Linked DNA regions of Homo sapiens. The protein of the gene in region 1 purifies or fractionates together with the protein of each later gene. This does not show direct contact. Each region holds a gene or a part of one and is shown in the gene's direction. Other genes may lie near its edges.

Region 1 (5,146 bases):
CTGGAAAATGAGTATAGTTTTGCATTCGGGAGTTTAAATCTGATCCTTTTTGGTCGTCATGTATTGTCACTTCAGAACTTCCAAGTGCAGAAAAAGCTGAAGTTTTTTGCCTACGTATAGTTAACTAAAGAGTAGAAGTAGTCCTATCTTACTTACATTAAATAAGAAACCTTATTATTGGGCCGGGCGCGGTGGTTCACGCTTGTAATCCCAGCACTTTGGGAGGCCGAGTTGGGCGGATCACGAGGTCAGGCGATCGAGACAATCCTGGCTAATACAGTGAAACCCTGTCTCTACTAAAAATACAAAAAATTAGCCGGGCGTGGTGGCAGGCGCCTGTAATCCCAGCTACTCCGGAGGCTGAGGCAGGAGAATGGCGCGAACCCAGGAGGCGGAGCTTGCAGTGAGCCGAGATTGCGCCACTGCACTCCAGCCTGGGAGACAGAGCCAGACTCCGTCTCAAAAAAAAAAGAAACATTATTATTTCACTGAAACCAATATTTAGAATTAGAAGGAATCTCTGTGAATGTATAAGTAGATTCCCATTTAACAGAGGAGAAAATTAAGGCTCAGAAACAATCAGTAATTAGTAATTGGCTTGCTTGAGGTCATCTGGCTTAGGTAGTGCTAGAACCTGAACTGTAAGGTCTCAAGTGTTCTTTCTGTTCTAACAAGGTTGTATCCAGGCATCTTATTATGGTTTGGTAATATTTCCAAGTTCACATGAAAATAATTACTCTTAGGTATTAAAGGGATCTATCCACATACACACGTAAATACACACATACGCACATAAGCCTTATTTACAAACTTTTTTTCCCTCTTTAGCTAGTTTAGTCTTATAAATTGTAGCATAACAAAAACTGTGCTTGGCTAGATTTGAAGTGTAATAGATTAAGGAAAGAAAATCAGTTATATTCTTCAGAATAGTTTGTCTGAGTTCATGCTTCATGACTGTCATGTGTTGAGTTATCTTTCTGGCAAGTGGAAATGACGGAGGAGCCTTAACACGTGTCTACTGTGAATGTTGTTGCTAAAGAGTAGGAGAGAACTGGCCAGGCGCCGTGGCTCACGCCTGTAATCCCAGCACTTTGGGAGGCCGAGGCGGGAAGATCACCTGAGATCAGGAGTTTGAGACTAGCCTGTCTAACATGGTGAAACCCGGTGTCTACAAAAAATACAAAAAAATTAGCTGGGTGTGGTGGCAGACGCCTGTAATCCCAGCTACTCAGGAGGCTGAGGCATGAGAATCGTTTGAACCCGGGAGGCGGAGGTTGCAGTGAGCCGAGATCGCGCCACTGCACTCCAGCCTGGACAACAGAGCGAGACTCCATCTCAAAAAAAAAAGAGAAGAAAATAAAAGAAAAGCAGTAGGAGAGAACTGTATTATTTGCTCTTACAAAAAAAAAAACCTCCCCAAGCTGTTTGTAATTTTAATATTTTGTTATGTTAATTATCTATTATATATAGAGCCATTTCTCTAGTTATTTTATTCTGGGTAAATAGCCATTGTAGAAGAGTTAATTCTTTGCATTGTTGGGTACTCTTTTTTTTTGGTTCCATTGATTTAACAAACTTTTTAGTCTCTTTAGTCTTTCTCGGAGATGATAGTTCTAGGTGCTACTGTCATTCCTGTTTTTGCCCAAGTGCCCTTGCTGTGTCTCCCATTTTGGTGTGGAAATGAACTCTAGATTAGAGAATCCTAATAAACAGGACAAATTGAAGTGATAACTTTGTCGTGGTTTTGTAAATTGTTACTCTGCTTTCACAAAGCCTTGCAAATATTTTGAGGAATAGTAAATTGCTAAGAGCATATTGCCTCAAGAAATTCCTTATTTTATATGGGAAAGCAGCTTTGGATGGAGTTTGCTGAACTGAAGTTAGGTATTATGTAGGCCCTTATATAAAGCTTATTTTAAAATATGCTCCTTGATTTGCAGCATCAAGGAAATTTGAACAGGAGATAATTTTCTGTGTCAGATAAAAGGTGATACTTAAAGTTTAAGGCATATTTAAATTAAGCAAGGGCAATCTATTGAGTAATTATATCACAGCTAATATACCTATAATTGCTCAAGAGTTTGTTTGTATTCTTGAACTACTTAATCTTTTCAGTAGTTCATGGGAGTATTTTCTCTTGTCCTTGAGTTTTTTAATGATAACTTTGTTCTTTATAGATTACCTGGAAGGACTAGGCAGGTAGTGTTAAAAGCCAGGGCTATAAAGCTAGACTGCTTTTTTTCAAATTCTAGCTCTATTACTATGCAACTCTTGGATTAGTTACTTTTTACTTCTTGCTATCTCAGTTTCCTCCTGGACAATGAAGTCAATACCCTTCTTGTTAGGATTGAATGAATAGGTTTAAATAAAGCATTTAGAACAGTGTCTGTAGCATATAGTTAACCATGATTGTGATCATTATCATCATGTGGCCCCCTAAGCTATTGCCAAGAACTCTTTCCCAGCCCTCTTTTAAAAGCATAGCTTTATGTTGCTGCTTACTTAATTATTGTTTGCTCATTATTAATGAAGTTCCAGTAAATAAATATCTGAGTATACACTTCACTTTGTCTATATTTTACAACATATGTGAGATTCTTAACCAAATGAGGCATTCTTTTGGGCCATTCTGTTAACTTTTTGGTATTAACAGACTACATTATCTGTGTAAGCCATAACACAGAATTTGGCAATTGAAACTTTTGATGTTTCATGATGTCTTTTAGCACTTTCTTGGAATGGAAAGATCATTTTCCAGTGACATCTATTGCCTTATCTGTTCATTATCCAGTCAGTGAACAAACATTTTGTGTCCCAGGCCTTACACCAGGTTCTGGGGAAAACAATGGGAAATAAGAATTGTTAGGAAGGCAGCACATGAGGGTCTAAGAGAGAGTTAACAATGTGGATATATGCTTATTTGAGGCTGGAGCATAATAGACTTGGAATACATTGACATGAGATGATATAGGAAATATATACAGGATCCAGGTCATGCAGAATTTTGCAGGCCAAGGGAATGAGTTTGAATTTGATTTTGAGTGCAGTAGGAAATCATTCTACAATTTTAAGTAGAGGAGTAATAGGATTTATAAGAAGTTCATTGTTGTTCATGTGTGAAGGATGAATTGAAGCGGGCAAGAACAGAAATGGAGAGAGAAGTTGAGAGTCCACTGCATAGTCCAAGAAGAAGATGAAGATGGTCTGGACTAGAAGGGTAGCAAAGAAGATGGACAGTTGTGTGTGGATACCAAATATATTTGGTATAGGACTTGGTCCTGGGTTAGATGAGTGGTAAGAAAAAGGGAAGTGTCAGGGATGACTAAGCTTCTGGATTTAGTGACTGGGTGGGTGGTTGTGCCAGGTACTGGGAGAAGGGAGGTTTGGAGAAGACCAGGTTTGTTTGTTACAAGAAGGTGGGTAGGTGTAGGGAGAAAAGGACATGTTAATTTTGAGACACTTAAAGAATCATCTATGGACACAGGAGGGGGGACATCACACACCGGGGCCTGTTGTGGGTTGGGGGAAGGAGGGAGGGATAGCATTAGGAGATATACCTAATGTAAATGACGAGTTAATAGGTGCAGCACACCAACATGGCACATGTATACATATGTAACAAACCTGCACATTGTGCACATGTACCCTAGAACTTAAAGTATAATAATAATAATAATAATAAATCATCCAAGTCACGCACTTACATATATAAATCTAGAGGTCAAAACCAGAAATACAAATACGGGATAGTATTTTCAACCATGGACCAGATGAGTCACCTGGGGAGATAGGGAGAGGAGAGGGCCAAGGGCAGGTAAAAGAAAGATCTGGGCTGGATGCAGTGGCTCACTCCTGTAATCCCAGAACTTTGGGAGGCTGAGGTGGGTGGATCGCTTGAGTCCAGGAGTTCGAGACCAGCCTGGACAACATGGCAAAACCCCATCTCTCTTTTTTTTTTTTTTTTTTTGTTAAAAAAAAGAGAGACTTTTTTTTTTAACAAAACGGAGACTAAGAAGGTATCTTAGGGCTGGGCACAATGGTTCACACCTGTAATCCCAACACTGAGAGGCCAAGGTGCGCAGATCACTTGAGGTCAAGAGTTCAAGATCAGCCTGGCCAACATGGTGAGACCCCATCTCTACTAAAAATACAAAAATTAGCTGGGCGTGGTGGTGGGCACCTGTAATCCCCACTGCTAGGGAGGCTGAGGCATTAGAATCGCTTGAACCCGGGAGGCAGAGGTTGCAGTGAGCCAAGATCGTGCCACTGCACTCCAACCTGCGCAACTGAGCGAGACTCCGTCTTAAAAGGAAAAAAAAAAAAAAAAAAAAAGAAGGTTTCTTAGTCCGTTTTCTGTTGCTTATACCAGAATACCCGAAACTGGGTAATTTATAAAGAAAAGGAATTTAATTTTTATAGCCGTGGAAGCTGAAAAGTTCAAGATCGAGTGGCCACATTGGGTAAGGGCCTTCTTGCTGGAGGGACTCTGCAGAGTGCCGAGAGTATCACATGGAGGGGGAGCTGAGTGTGCAAGCTCAGTTCTCTTTTTCTCTGCTTATAAAGCAACCAGTCCTACCCCCATGATAACCCATTAATCCATTAACCCATTAATTTATGAATGGATTAATTCATTCATAAGGGCAGAGCCTCCGTGACCCAATCACCTCTTAAAGGCCTTGTCTCACTCTACTGCCACATTAGGGGTTAAATTTTAACATGAGTTTTGGAGGGGACACATACTCAAACAATAATAGGAGTGTTTGAAAGAAGAAAGGTCAGATACACAAAACTAATAAAAGTGGTTACATCTAGCAGGGAGAGTGGGGAGCAAGGTTTTTCACCTTTTTCAAATGTATATATATAATTATTTTAAAGCACATGAAAGTTGTTCTTGCGTTTTTGTTTTTGTTTTTGGTGGGGGGTGGGGGCGGTGCAGGGAGAGGGCTTTGAGCCAGGATCTCTGTCACCCAGGCTAGATTGTTAGATTGCAGTGGCACGATCACAGCTCTCTGCAACCTTGACCTCCTAGGCTCAAGCAATCCTCCCACCTCAGCCCCCTGAGTACCTGGGACCACAGATACCATGAGGTGCATGCCACCACACAGGAGTAATTTTTTAATTTTTTTGGTAGGGATGGGGTCTTGTT
Region 2 (3,700 bases), on another chromosome or scaffold:
TTAACCTCTCTGAGGCTTCCCTTTCACAACTCCTTTGTGAACTGTACCTGCCTCATAAGCTTATGCCAAGAACTGATTAAGATAATCCCTGTGGAGCTCAGCACAGGACCCGAGGCCTAGCGAGTGCCCAGAAGGTGGTGGCACTTACGCAGGAGCCACATGTCCTTGCCCTGAAACACACTTCAACAAACTGAGCTGACTCATGGAGACAGAAGTCATCCATGTGACGCTTACTCTCTGTTCTTAAGTGAGAATGCCCGGCTCGTTCCTTTTCAGGCTTTTATTGCCTACTGTGGGGGACTGCTGAGGCGATCTGGGGACTTCTGCCCCTTGAGCCTGGAATGGGGATTCGGTGAGGGGCAGAGAAAGCCCCCCTGCCCAGCTACACCTCACCTCTTTCTCTCCACCACCAGACAAACTCACCTGCCTTCAGCCCTCCATGCACTGCCCCCCACAAATTTCTGGGGGCTACTTGGCCCCTCCACAGTAGAGACCCACGTCTGCCCTTTTCCCAGCATGGTGGATTAAGTACCCGCTTTCAGGACACACAGTGCTGTTGGCCCCTTTCACTGAACAGACATCTGAGGCCAAGCCACTCATCCTGGCTTGCCTTCACCCGACATGTGGCCTGGGGCGAGTTCCTTCCCCTCCCTATGCCTCAGTTTCCCCACCTGTGCAGCAGAAACAGAGAGCCACACTTGCTTGCTCCCAGGGCCGTGGGAGGCCGTGATGAGGTCATGGATGTGAGAACATTTGTTGTACAGGCACAGGGTATAATTACATGGGGACTGCTCCTCAGAGGGGTTTGTCAGGGACAGCCTGAGCAGGGGACAGGAACTTGAAGGAAATTCGAGGGGAGGGAAGATGTTTCAGGTGAGGGGGTGGGAGATGAGGAGGGGGGGCCGCAGGGGCCACGTCAAGGGGCACAAGCCAGGGAGTGAGTGAGGACGGAGGACCTGTGTGAGGATCCCTTTCTTTCCTCCTCTTCCTTTCTCTCCCAGCCCCACCTGCCTCTCCGTCACCACCCCCCCAAAAGCCTCCCAGTCCCCAGACTGTACATGAAACAAAAATCCTGGTGTCCACCCTGAAAATAAATACTGTTGCTTAAAAAAAAAAAAGAAAGAAGAGAAAGAAAGAAAGAAAGACACAAACCTAAACCCCAAAGCCAAACAGCAAGTCTGTTATTTGGGAGTTTAATGAGCCCGTGTGAAGTCGCTGCCGGGCTGGAAACGATGAGGCTCCCTGCAGGAAGATTGGGGGCTTCGTTTTCCACTCTGAAGATGCCAAGAGGTCAGGTTCTGTGGGAACAGTTGTGGGGGGCGGGGCAAGGGACCCGTGACCTGGGGTCCCCTTCTCCTTCTTCTCCCAGCCCACCCTGCCCCCTGAGCTCCTGGCTGCAGCTGAGAGCAAGGACTCTGCCTCTCTGAACCACTTGTTTCCCCACTCCTTCTGGCAATAGAAATGCCTTCCAGTGGCAGCCACCCCCTGGGTGCTGGGGACTTCCCTGGGTGACTGCCTTTCCTCCTGTGATGGGTCTGTGGATGGATGTTAGTTGCATTTTATTTATTATTATTATTTTGAGACGGAGTCTCATTCTGTCTCTAAGGCTGGAGTGTAGTGGTGCGATCTTGGCTCACTGCAGCCTTCACCTCCCGGGTTCAAGCGATTGTCCTGCCTCAGCCTCCTGAGTAGCTGGGATTATAGGCGCACATCACCACGCCCGGCTAATTTTTTTTTTTTAAATTTTTAGTAGAGACGGGGTTTCGCCATGTTGGCCAGGCTGGTCTCAAACTCTGGACCTCAGGTGATCCGCCCGTTTTGGCCTCCCAAAGTGCTGGCATTATAGGCGTGAGCCATCGCGCCCGGCCTATTTTATTTTATTTTTGAGACAGGGTCTCACTCTGTTGCCCAGGCTGGAGTGCAGTGGCGTGATCATGGCTCACTTCAGTCTCAGCCTCCTGGGCTCAAGTGCTCCTCCTGGCTCAGTCCCTTGAATAGCTAGGAGCACAAGCCTGTACCACCATGCCCGGCTAAGTTTCGAAACAAATTTTATTTGTATAGACAGGGTCTTGCCATGTTGTCCAGGCTGGTCTCAAACTCCTGGCATCAAGTGATCCTCCCGCCTCAGCCTCCCAAAGTGCTGGGATTACAGGCATGAGCCACCGCGCCTGGCCAGTCGCATTTTATGGATAGGAAAACTGGGCTCACAGAGTTTAGGTGGCAGGCCCTTGGTCAGTAGTCGATAGAGTCAGGGTTCAAACCCAAGTCTGACTTCAAAGCTCACGGCCATGACCATGGCCTGGACCCAGGCTGGTCCTGGGGCACCTTTCCCACCTCTCCAGCCATCCTGTGTTCCTGGCCCCCTGTGCATTCCACAAAACCTAGGATCTAAGGTGGGAGACAGAGTGGAGGATAGAGCAAGGGACCTATGAGATGCAGGCCTGGAATGGTGGATCTGGGGCCAGTGTCAGCCAGGCTCTGCACTCCCAAGGTGTCAGCCAGGGGCAGTGGCCCGGGCTGGCACCCGCGGTGACAAGAGAACACTAGTGTGGTGGTCACCGCAGGCGGCTGCTGTTATGCTCTTGGCCCTACTTTAAAAATAGTCAGAACTTCAAACATGGACTCCCAAGGAAAACAAACAGTCCCGCGTCCGTCTGCCCGCACACACCAGCTGGTGGGTAAAATTAGCCTGGTGGTGACTACAGAGCCGTGAGGCCCGGCCCCGCTGTTTGCCCAGGCTGCGGTGGGCTGGCTCCCAGCTGTGGGCTGCCCCAAAGACCTCCCTGGCTGGAGCCTCTCCCTGCACGCATTCAGCCTTCCACCGTGGGAGAGGAGGCTCTGGGAGTCCCTGCCCTTAGCTGCACGAATACAGCAGGGCCCTAGTGCCACAGCCGGAAAAGCCCTGGGTTTGAATCCTGATGCTGCCACTTCCTGGCTCTGTGGCCTTCGGGGGAAAAAACCAATTTCTGTGCCCATTTTTTTAGTTGGAAAACAGGTGGCCAGGGTTTATTGCAGCCTTGGTATGAAGTTGAGTCAGAATGTATCTTAAATGCTTAGTGCCTGACACACAGGGAACGCTCTGTAAATGGTCTGATTCTTATTCGAGTGGGAGTTCTGTGGATTCCGGGAAGCCAAGTAAGGTAAGTTATCAGCTCCTCCAATATCCCTAGAAGCGCCAAACCACCGTCCCAATAGACTCGTGATTTCATCTCCCCACGCTGGACAAGTAAGGCCCAGAGATGACTGAGGCCTGGCTCACCAGGCTGGGAAAGTGTCCACACCATCTCCAGGGACTCCAGGAGTCCAGGTTCCAAGCCGAGGTCACTGGGGCTTCTGGGCATCTTGGAACCCTGCAGAAGTGATGGCTCCTGTCTCTTTTAGGTGATCATGGGGGGTGGCCGGAAATACATGTACCCCAAGAATAAAACTGATGTGGAGTATGAGAGTGACGAGAAAGCCAGGGGCACGAGGCTGGACGGCCTGGACCTCGTTGACACCTGGAAGAGCTTCAAACCGAGATACAAGGTAGCCTGTGCTGGGGCCATGTGGCTGCAGAGGTGGCCTGTGATGGGGAGAGGCTGTGTGACCCCTGCTCTGAAGTTCTGTTGTCCTCTGTAGAAAGGGCATCGGAAATCTTTCCTCCATGGGCTCAAATGGCCTAAGAGATATACAAGCAGTAGATAGTCAGTGACTAATCATT
Region 3 (3,700 bases), on another chromosome or scaffold:
AATGGGGCGTACTTAGCTAAAAAAAAATCTGGTGTTGGCCGGGCGAGGTGGCTCACGCCTGCAATCCCAGCACTTTGGGAGGTCAAGGTGGTGGATCAAGAAGTCAGGAGTTCAAGACCAACCTGGCCAAGTTGGTGAAACCCTGTCTTTACTAAAAATACAAAAATTAGCCGGACGACAAAAAATACAATATTTTTTGTATTGTATATATATATATATAAAGTATTTATATATTGTATATATAAAAAATACAAAAATTACAGGATGACACTCCTGTAATCCCAGCTACTCGGGAGGCTGAGGCAGAGAATTCCTTAAATCTGGGAGGTGGAGTTTACTGTGAGCCGAGATCTCGCCACTGCACTCCAGCCTGGGCAACAGAGCGAGACTCCATCTCAAAAAAAAAAATTTGTTGTTTATCTAAAATTCCAAGTCAAGTGGGTGCAGAGAATCACCAGCAGAAGGGAGAGTACTAGCAAAAGCAGGAGCAGCTATGAGCAGGGGCTGTTTGTGTAGCTGGAGCAGAGAAGCTGTTGGGAGGGGGAGTGCAACAACACTGGTGAGGTGGGGCCAGCCCAGGGAAGGCCTGTGAAGCCAGGCTCTGGGTTTGGATTTGGCTGTACAAGCCACTGTCCTCCCATCTGGACAGCTGCAACAGCCTCACAGCTCTGCAGCCACATCCATCTCTCCCCTCTGTAGTGAGTTCTCAACACAATAATCAGAACTCAGGTCAGACCATCTCACTTCCTGCTCAAGCCTCTAATGGCTTCCCAGGCTGTTCCTAGGAAAAGACACCCGAACTCCTTACTCAGCCTAGAAGACCCTGTAGAATCTGACCTTGCCTAGGTGAATAAAATCTACTCCAGAGGGTTATTGGGCAGATCAAGGAGGGGAGTGTCAGGCAATGGTTCTCAACCTTGGCTGCTCATTGAAACCATCCAGGGAGCTTTAAAAATGCAGGTGCCTGAGCTCCACCCCCAGATATTTTGGGTTAATTGGTCTAGGGTGGGACTGGGCATCAGGAATTTCAACAGATCCCCAGGTGATTCCAGTGTGCAGCCAAATTGGGAATGATGGATACAAAGTGTCTTCCCTGGCCCAGAGCATGTGCTCAGTGAGAGGGGTGGTGTTGCCATGCGTCTGATTATTACCGCCACACATCCAGCTTCTATCCTGTTTCCCCCAGCAGTGATTGTCACAGCTGTGTCATCACTGGTGTCCTGGCCTTGGCCTCTTCCTACTCTCCACCTCCCAACATGCAGCACAGAGCAGCTGGAAAGGTCTTTCCTGAAATGCCAACCTGACCTTCCTCCCTCACTGGCCTGCCACTCTCTGAACCTCGAGGCTTTCCCACCTGCATTCCTCTGCCTGTAATGTTCTATAGCCCTTCTCTTAACTTGACCAACACTTACTCCTCCTTTGCATCCCAAGTTCCTCTTTTATGCTGTCTTAGGACTGAACTTTTTCCTCTACCACACTCAGCATACCCTGTGCTGGTTTTTCATTGTGTGGGAACTTGCTTGGCTCCTCTCTCCCCCAGCACACTTTCAGCTCCATGAGCGGAGACCCAGTCTTTCTTATTCTCCACTGTCCCCACCAGAGCCTAGCACACAGTGCTGGGGTGGGCCTCATTACATGTTGAACAAATGAATGGATGAAAGAATGGCTGAGCACGGGAGCAATAAGATCAGGTTGGCATTTCCAGAAAGAGCTTTCCAGCTGCTTTGTGCTGCATGCTGGGAGGTAGAGGGAAGGAAGAGGCCAAGACCAAGACACCCGTGATGACACAGCTGTGACAATACAGCCAAAGAATGATCAGGCCTCCATTAGGATGGAGATGATGGGATGGGAGGGGGACAGATCTCAGAGACACTGGGATGGTCAAATGGGCTTATGGGGAGAAGGTGCCACATTCCCTGATGTTTTACCCTGAGGGACAGGCAGGATGACAAGATGGAAAGAGAGCCTTCCAAAGAAAGAGGCTGTCACTGGAAAGAGCCATTCTGGTTTGGCCACGTTGAGCTGGATGTGCCAGCAGGACATCAGGGAATCAGAGGCCAGGGGCAGAGCAGCCTGGGCTGGGGCTGGGGATTTCAGAGTCACATCAATAGAGGTGAGAGTAAAAGTAAAATAAAATTTTGAAGTTTTCATGCAAGTGTTTCTTGCCATTTCTGTGAGCCAGAGTTCCCGGGGTTTGGAGTGTGGGTCCCTAGGAGGCTCTTCTGTCTGCAGAGGCACATCATGAGCCCTTCCCTTGTCCCTGCAGCGATCCTGGGCATGCACACGCTCATGAGTAACCAGCAGTACTACCAGGCCCTGAGCAGCAGCTCCATCATGAACAAGGAGGGGCTCAACAGTGAGTATGCGCCCGCCCCCAGGAGGGACCTCATGCTTCTTGCTTCCTCCACTCACTGATGTTCTCTGGCTCATTGCAGAAGTTTTAACATGTTATATAGCCAAATCTGTTCATCCTTTCCTTTGAGTCTCCTGGGATTTGTGTCTTGTTTACAAAGGCCTTCTCTATCCCAGTATTATAGAAATGTTCTCCTATATTTTCTTCTAAAAGTTTTAGAGATTTACTTTTTATATTCAACTTTTTCTTTTTTTAGACAGGGTCTTGCTCTGTCAGCCAGGCTGGAGTGCATTGGCACAATCTTGACACACTGCAGCCTGGACCTCCTGGGCTTAAGCGATCCTCCCACCTCTGCCTCCTGAGTAGCTGAGGCTACAGGTGTATGCCAGCATGCCTGGCTAATTTTGTTTATTTTGTATGGAGATGAGGTCACACCATTGCCCAGACTGGTCTCGAACTCCTGGACTCAAGCAATCCTCCTGCCTCAGCCTCCCAAAGTGCTGGGATTACAGGCATGAGCCACCACACCTGGCCTTATATTCAACTTCTTAATCTACCTGGAGTTCATGTTTGTGTGTGCTGTGGGATGAGACCAAACTTTCATTTTTTCGAATTAATATCCAGTGGTCCCAACACCATTCCTTGCAAGATTTATCCTTTCCCCACTAGTTTGGGGCCTGCCTTTATCATCCACATGGATCTGTTTCTAGGTGCCTCCTCTGTTTCATGAGCCCTTTTGTCCTTTCCTGTGCCAATATTGCATTGCCTTAATTACTCCACTGCATTGTTCCAAAGCTGGCATTTTGGCCCCAAACAGAAATGAGGCTGCCAAAAAAAATAATTATTCCTCCCTCTGGAAGATTGATGCATTTCTTTCCCATCCGGGCTTCATCTTAGCCTCCCAAGAGTCCACTGAGGTCATGAGCCCCGGGAAAATGACTAGCCCTGCCTTACAGATGTAGACCCAAGGTTCAGAGAGTTTAAGTAATTCACCCAGTTCTTGCAGGACGTCAAAGGCAGAGTCCAAGTAGAACCCCAGCCTCCTGGCTCCCTTGCGGGGCTTCTTCTGAGTGGTGCCCCCTACCCCCACCCAGCCCCTGTGATGTGCAGCCCTCACGTGCCCCAACCCTGCACATGCTCCCTTCCACAGTATCTTTGTGTTGGCAGAAAGTGAGCCCCTTGTTTCTGTGAGCCACCTCCCTTTCATCGGTCACTCTAGGCGTGATTAAACCCACACAATACAAGCCTGTGCCCGACGAAGAACCAAATTCAACAGACGTAGAGGAAACGCTGGAACGGATAAAGAACAACGACCCAAAACTTGAAGAAGTTAACCTCAATAATATC
Region 4 (3,700 bases), on another chromosome or scaffold:
TAATGACTCTGGAAAAATATGTGAAAAAAATACAAAAGTGTACATAAAAGTTATTACAGCTATGTATAAAGTACATATATAGTTATGTATAAGTATATATTAGAAACCAAGAAATGAATATTATTAGTATGGGGGATATTTTGTAGTTTAAAGTTGACTTATTCATAAATACAATATTCTTAATAATACGGGACTTGGTTGAAAAATTAATATGAAAGAAATCTGACTAAATGAAAAGTTAACTGCCTCAGAATTTTTATTGATGTGTTTCATAAAAGGCAGTAAGAATTGTCTTTTTTACAGTTACTCATATGTTTAATGATTCTTTGGAAGGTCTTAATTACAGAGCACGGTGACCTGGGTAATAGCAGATTTTTAGATCCAAGAAACAAAATTTCCTTTAAATTTGACCACTTACGGAAAGAAGCAAGTGACCCCCAGCCAGAAGAAGCAGATGGAGGTCTGAAGTCTTGGAGAGAATCCTGTGACAGTGCTTTAAGAGCCTATGTGAAAGACCATTATTCCAACGGCTTCTGTACTGTTAAGTATCTGACTGCTTCGTTATCAGAGAGTGTTTTCTTATATTTACCTTATCCTTTGGAGGCTTTGGCCTACCAAACATCCCTACTTTCTTCTTAGCCATGCTCTCTTCTCCTCTGCATTTTATTCCCTAAATCATTTTGGAAAGGGGTATAAATGAAATTTTTATATGGAAAATTTCTTTTTAAAATCCCAATGCACAAAAAATTTAGGTATCAGTGTATTCTGTTTTCACATTTGACTTATGAAAAATGCCTTACACCCATCAGAAAAAGGTCTTTGGTTTTTCTTTTTTTCTTTCTTTTTTTTAAATTAACCTTTTAAATTAATTTTTTTTTGTTTGTATTTTTACCCAGATCTAAAAGGTCTTTGGTTTGGACATGGAGAAAAAAATGGTATACTAAGATTGTTGAGAGAGCTTTTGCTCATATTTATGGCTTTTTGATATAGGCATTTTTACACAAACTACTTCTACATAGTTTAGATGTTTATATTCAGTAATCAAAACTATTAGAACTAAACAATTGGCTGGACATGGTGGCTCATGCCTGTAATCCCAGCACTTTGGGAGGCCAAGGTGGGCAGATCACTTGAGGCCAGGAGTTCGAGACCAGCCTGGCCAACATGGTGAAACCTTTACTTAAAAAATACAAAAAGTAGCTGGATGTGGTGGTGCACACCTGTAGTTTCAGCTACTCAGGAGGCTGAGGCACAAGAATCACTTGAACCAGGGAGGTGGAGGTTGCAGTGAGCTGAGACCACACCACTGCATTCCAGCCTGGGCAACAGAGTGAGACACTGTCTCAAAAAAACAAAAAACAAAAAAAACCAAACAATTTTTTTTTAATCAGGAGTGATTTTCTTTTTGTTGTTGTTTTTGCTGTTGTTGTTGTTGTTCTTTTGTTTTTTGAGACTAAGTCTTACTCTGTCACCCAGGCTAGAATGCAGGGGCACCGTGTCAGCTCAATGTCACCTCCATCTCCTGGGTTCAAGCAATTCTCCTGCCTCAGCTTCCTGAGTAGCTGGGATTACGGGTGCCCACCACCACACCTGGCTAATTTTTATATTTTTAGTAGAGACAGAGCTTCACCATGTTGGCCAGGCTGGTCTCGAACTCCTAACATCAGGTGATCCAGCTGCCTCGGACTCCCAAAGTGCTGGGATTACAGGCGTGAGCTGCTGCACCTGGCCTAATTTTCTTTTACTCCCTCTTGACTGTAAAAATAGATAAATTTGGCTTTATTATTTTTCCTTTATAAAATTATGGCATATTAAGAAAAATATTGATTAGAATATTTTTTATTTTTAAATTGACAAAAATATGATATGTACAACATGATATTTTGAAATATGTATACATTGTGGAATGGCTATATTGAGCTAATAACATGGATTTCTATACATATTTATCATTTTTTTGTTGTGGGAAAATCAGCAATTTTCACTAGAATATTTTAAATATACAATGATGATGAATTACATGGCAGTCTAGAATACAGTTAAGAGCACCTACTTTGAAGCCTTACTAACTGGTTTGATTCCTGGCCCTGCCAATTAATTAGTTGTGTGACCTTAGGTAAATTACTTAACATCTCTGTGCCTCAATTCTTTGACTGTAAAATGGAAATAATTGTTTTTATCTCATAGAGTTGTTGTGAAGATTTAATGAATTAGTAATATATGTAATATATGCCTGGAACAGTGCCTGGCACAAAGTAAGCTCTACATAAATGTTAGATGAATGTTAGGCTAGGTGTCATTATGTTTGATTTTTTTTTTTTTTTTTTTTTTTTTTAATGAGAATACCCATTATGGTGGACTGGACAAGTATAGAATTCCTGTTGGGAAGCCAGTATTGCAAAGGGGAGACATGATAGACTCCCATTTAGAAATTGACTGTTTAATCCTAAATATACTTTGAATTTATTGTTTGTTACCTGTTCAAAGTTTGTCACTACCCATTCTTAATTTGGAGAGCTCCAGCACCAAATAACCCTACTGTGTCCTTAGCTATCAAATGACCTACAGAAAGTCATGGAATTGTTGTGATGGTGTCTGCTGTATATAAGTATCCTATGTCTTATGTCTTCAGCTGACCTGCTTAGTAGTCCGTAATTTCATCTCCTTATTCCCTATCACATTTTCTACATAGTATGTTCCAAACATTTTTCATTGTCCTCTGACAGGCATCTAATCCCCCATGTTTTGTAAGGATTGAAACTGACAGAAATTTTTTTTTTTTTTTTTTGAGACAGAGTCTCACTCTGTCTTCCAAGCTGGAGTGCAATGGTGTGGTCTCGGCTCACTGCAACCTCCCCTTCCTGGGTTCAAGCGATTCTCCTGCCTCAGCCTCCTGAGTAGCTGGAATTACAGGCGCCTGCCACCACACCTGGCTAATTTTTGTATTTTTAGTAGAGACGGGGTTTCACTGTGTTGGCCAGGCTGGTCTTGAACTCCTGACCTTGTAATCCGTTCGCCTCAGCTTCCCAAGTAGCTAGGACCACAGGTGCACACCACCATACCTATCTAATTTTTCTCTGTGTGTGTTGTGTGTGTGTAGGGACTACAAGGCATGAGCCACCAGGCCCGGCCTATTTCTCCTTCTTTGTCTGCCCTTTCCACCTTGCCCTTTCTCCCTCTTCTCCACTTTTTCCCTTCTCTCATCTCTCTCTGCATCACCACCACGTCAGTACATATTCTTTGCCTGCTAATGCCATTTCCTCTATCTACTTCTGAACCCTTTAATTTTTTACTTTAGTCTCCATTCTACAGAAACTGCTCTGAGTTTACTAATGGTTCCTGAGTTACCTGGTCCAGTGTCCTTTTCCTTGTCCATGACTTCCGAATGGCATTTCACACTGAAGCCAATCAACCACTTCTAGAAATTATCTTTTACTTAGGCTGCTGTCAGCAACCCCTAATTCTTTTTTTTTTTTAGAGATGGAGTTTTGCTCTTTTTGCCCAGGCTGGCGTACAGTGGCATGATCTCAGCTCACTGCAACCTCCGCCTCTCAGGTTCAAGCGATTTTCCTGCCTCAGCCTCTCTAGTAGTTGGGATTACAGGTGCCCACCACCACACCTGGCTAATTTTTGTATTTTTAGTAGAGATGGGGTTTCACCATGTTGGCCGGGCTGGTCTTGAACTCCTGACCTCAGGTAA

The links. The genes of interacting proteins can lie anywhere in the genome.
Region 2: the proteins of VMP1 (region 1) and ALPL purify together in Homo sapiens (affinity purification with mass spectrometry; one large-scale study listed by BioGRID and IntAct). This does not show direct contact.
Region 3: the proteins of VMP1 (region 1) and TMOD1 purify together in Homo sapiens (affinity purification with mass spectrometry; one large-scale study listed by BioGRID and IntAct). This does not show direct contact.
Region 4: the proteins of VMP1 (region 1) and CAPZA1 purify together in Homo sapiens (affinity purification with mass spectrometry; one large-scale study listed by BioGRID and IntAct). This does not show direct contact.

Annotation. Positions count from the first base shown.
Region 1 is NC_000017.11:59,709,736-59,714,881, forward strand, and holds part of VMP1 (vacuole membrane protein 1), read left to right. Parts: intron 1-5,146. UniProt on the Homo sapiens protein: Phospholipid scramblase involved in lipid homeostasis and membrane dynamics processes. Has phospholipid scramblase activity toward cholesterol and phosphatidylserine, as well as phosphatidylethanolamine and phosphatidylcholine.
Region 2 is NC_000001.11:21,564,723-21,568,422, forward strand, and holds part of ALPL (alkaline phosphatase, tissue-nonspecific isozyme isoform 1 preproprotein), read left to right. Parts: intron 1-3,381; coding exon 3,382-3,525; intron 3,526-3,700. UniProt on the Homo sapiens protein: Alkaline phosphatase that metabolizes various phosphate compounds and plays a key role in skeletal mineralization and adaptive thermogenesis.
Region 3 is NC_000009.12:97,560,466-97,564,165, forward strand, and holds part of TMOD1 (tropomodulin-1), read left to right. Parts: intron 1-2,266; coding exon 2,267-2,356; intron 2,357-3,572; coding exon 3,573-3,700. UniProt on the Homo sapiens protein: Blocks the elongation and depolymerization of the actin filaments at the pointed end. The Tmod/TM complex contributes to the formation of the short actin protofilament, which in turn defines the geometry of the membrane skeleton.
Region 4 is NC_000001.11:112,654,132-112,657,831, forward strand, and holds part of CAPZA1 (F-actin-capping protein subunit alpha-1), read left to right. Parts: intron 1-333; coding exon 334-540; intron 541-3,700. UniProt on the Homo sapiens protein: F-actin-capping proteins bind in a Ca(2+)-independent manner to the fast growing ends of actin filaments (barbed end) thereby blocking the exchange of subunits at these ends.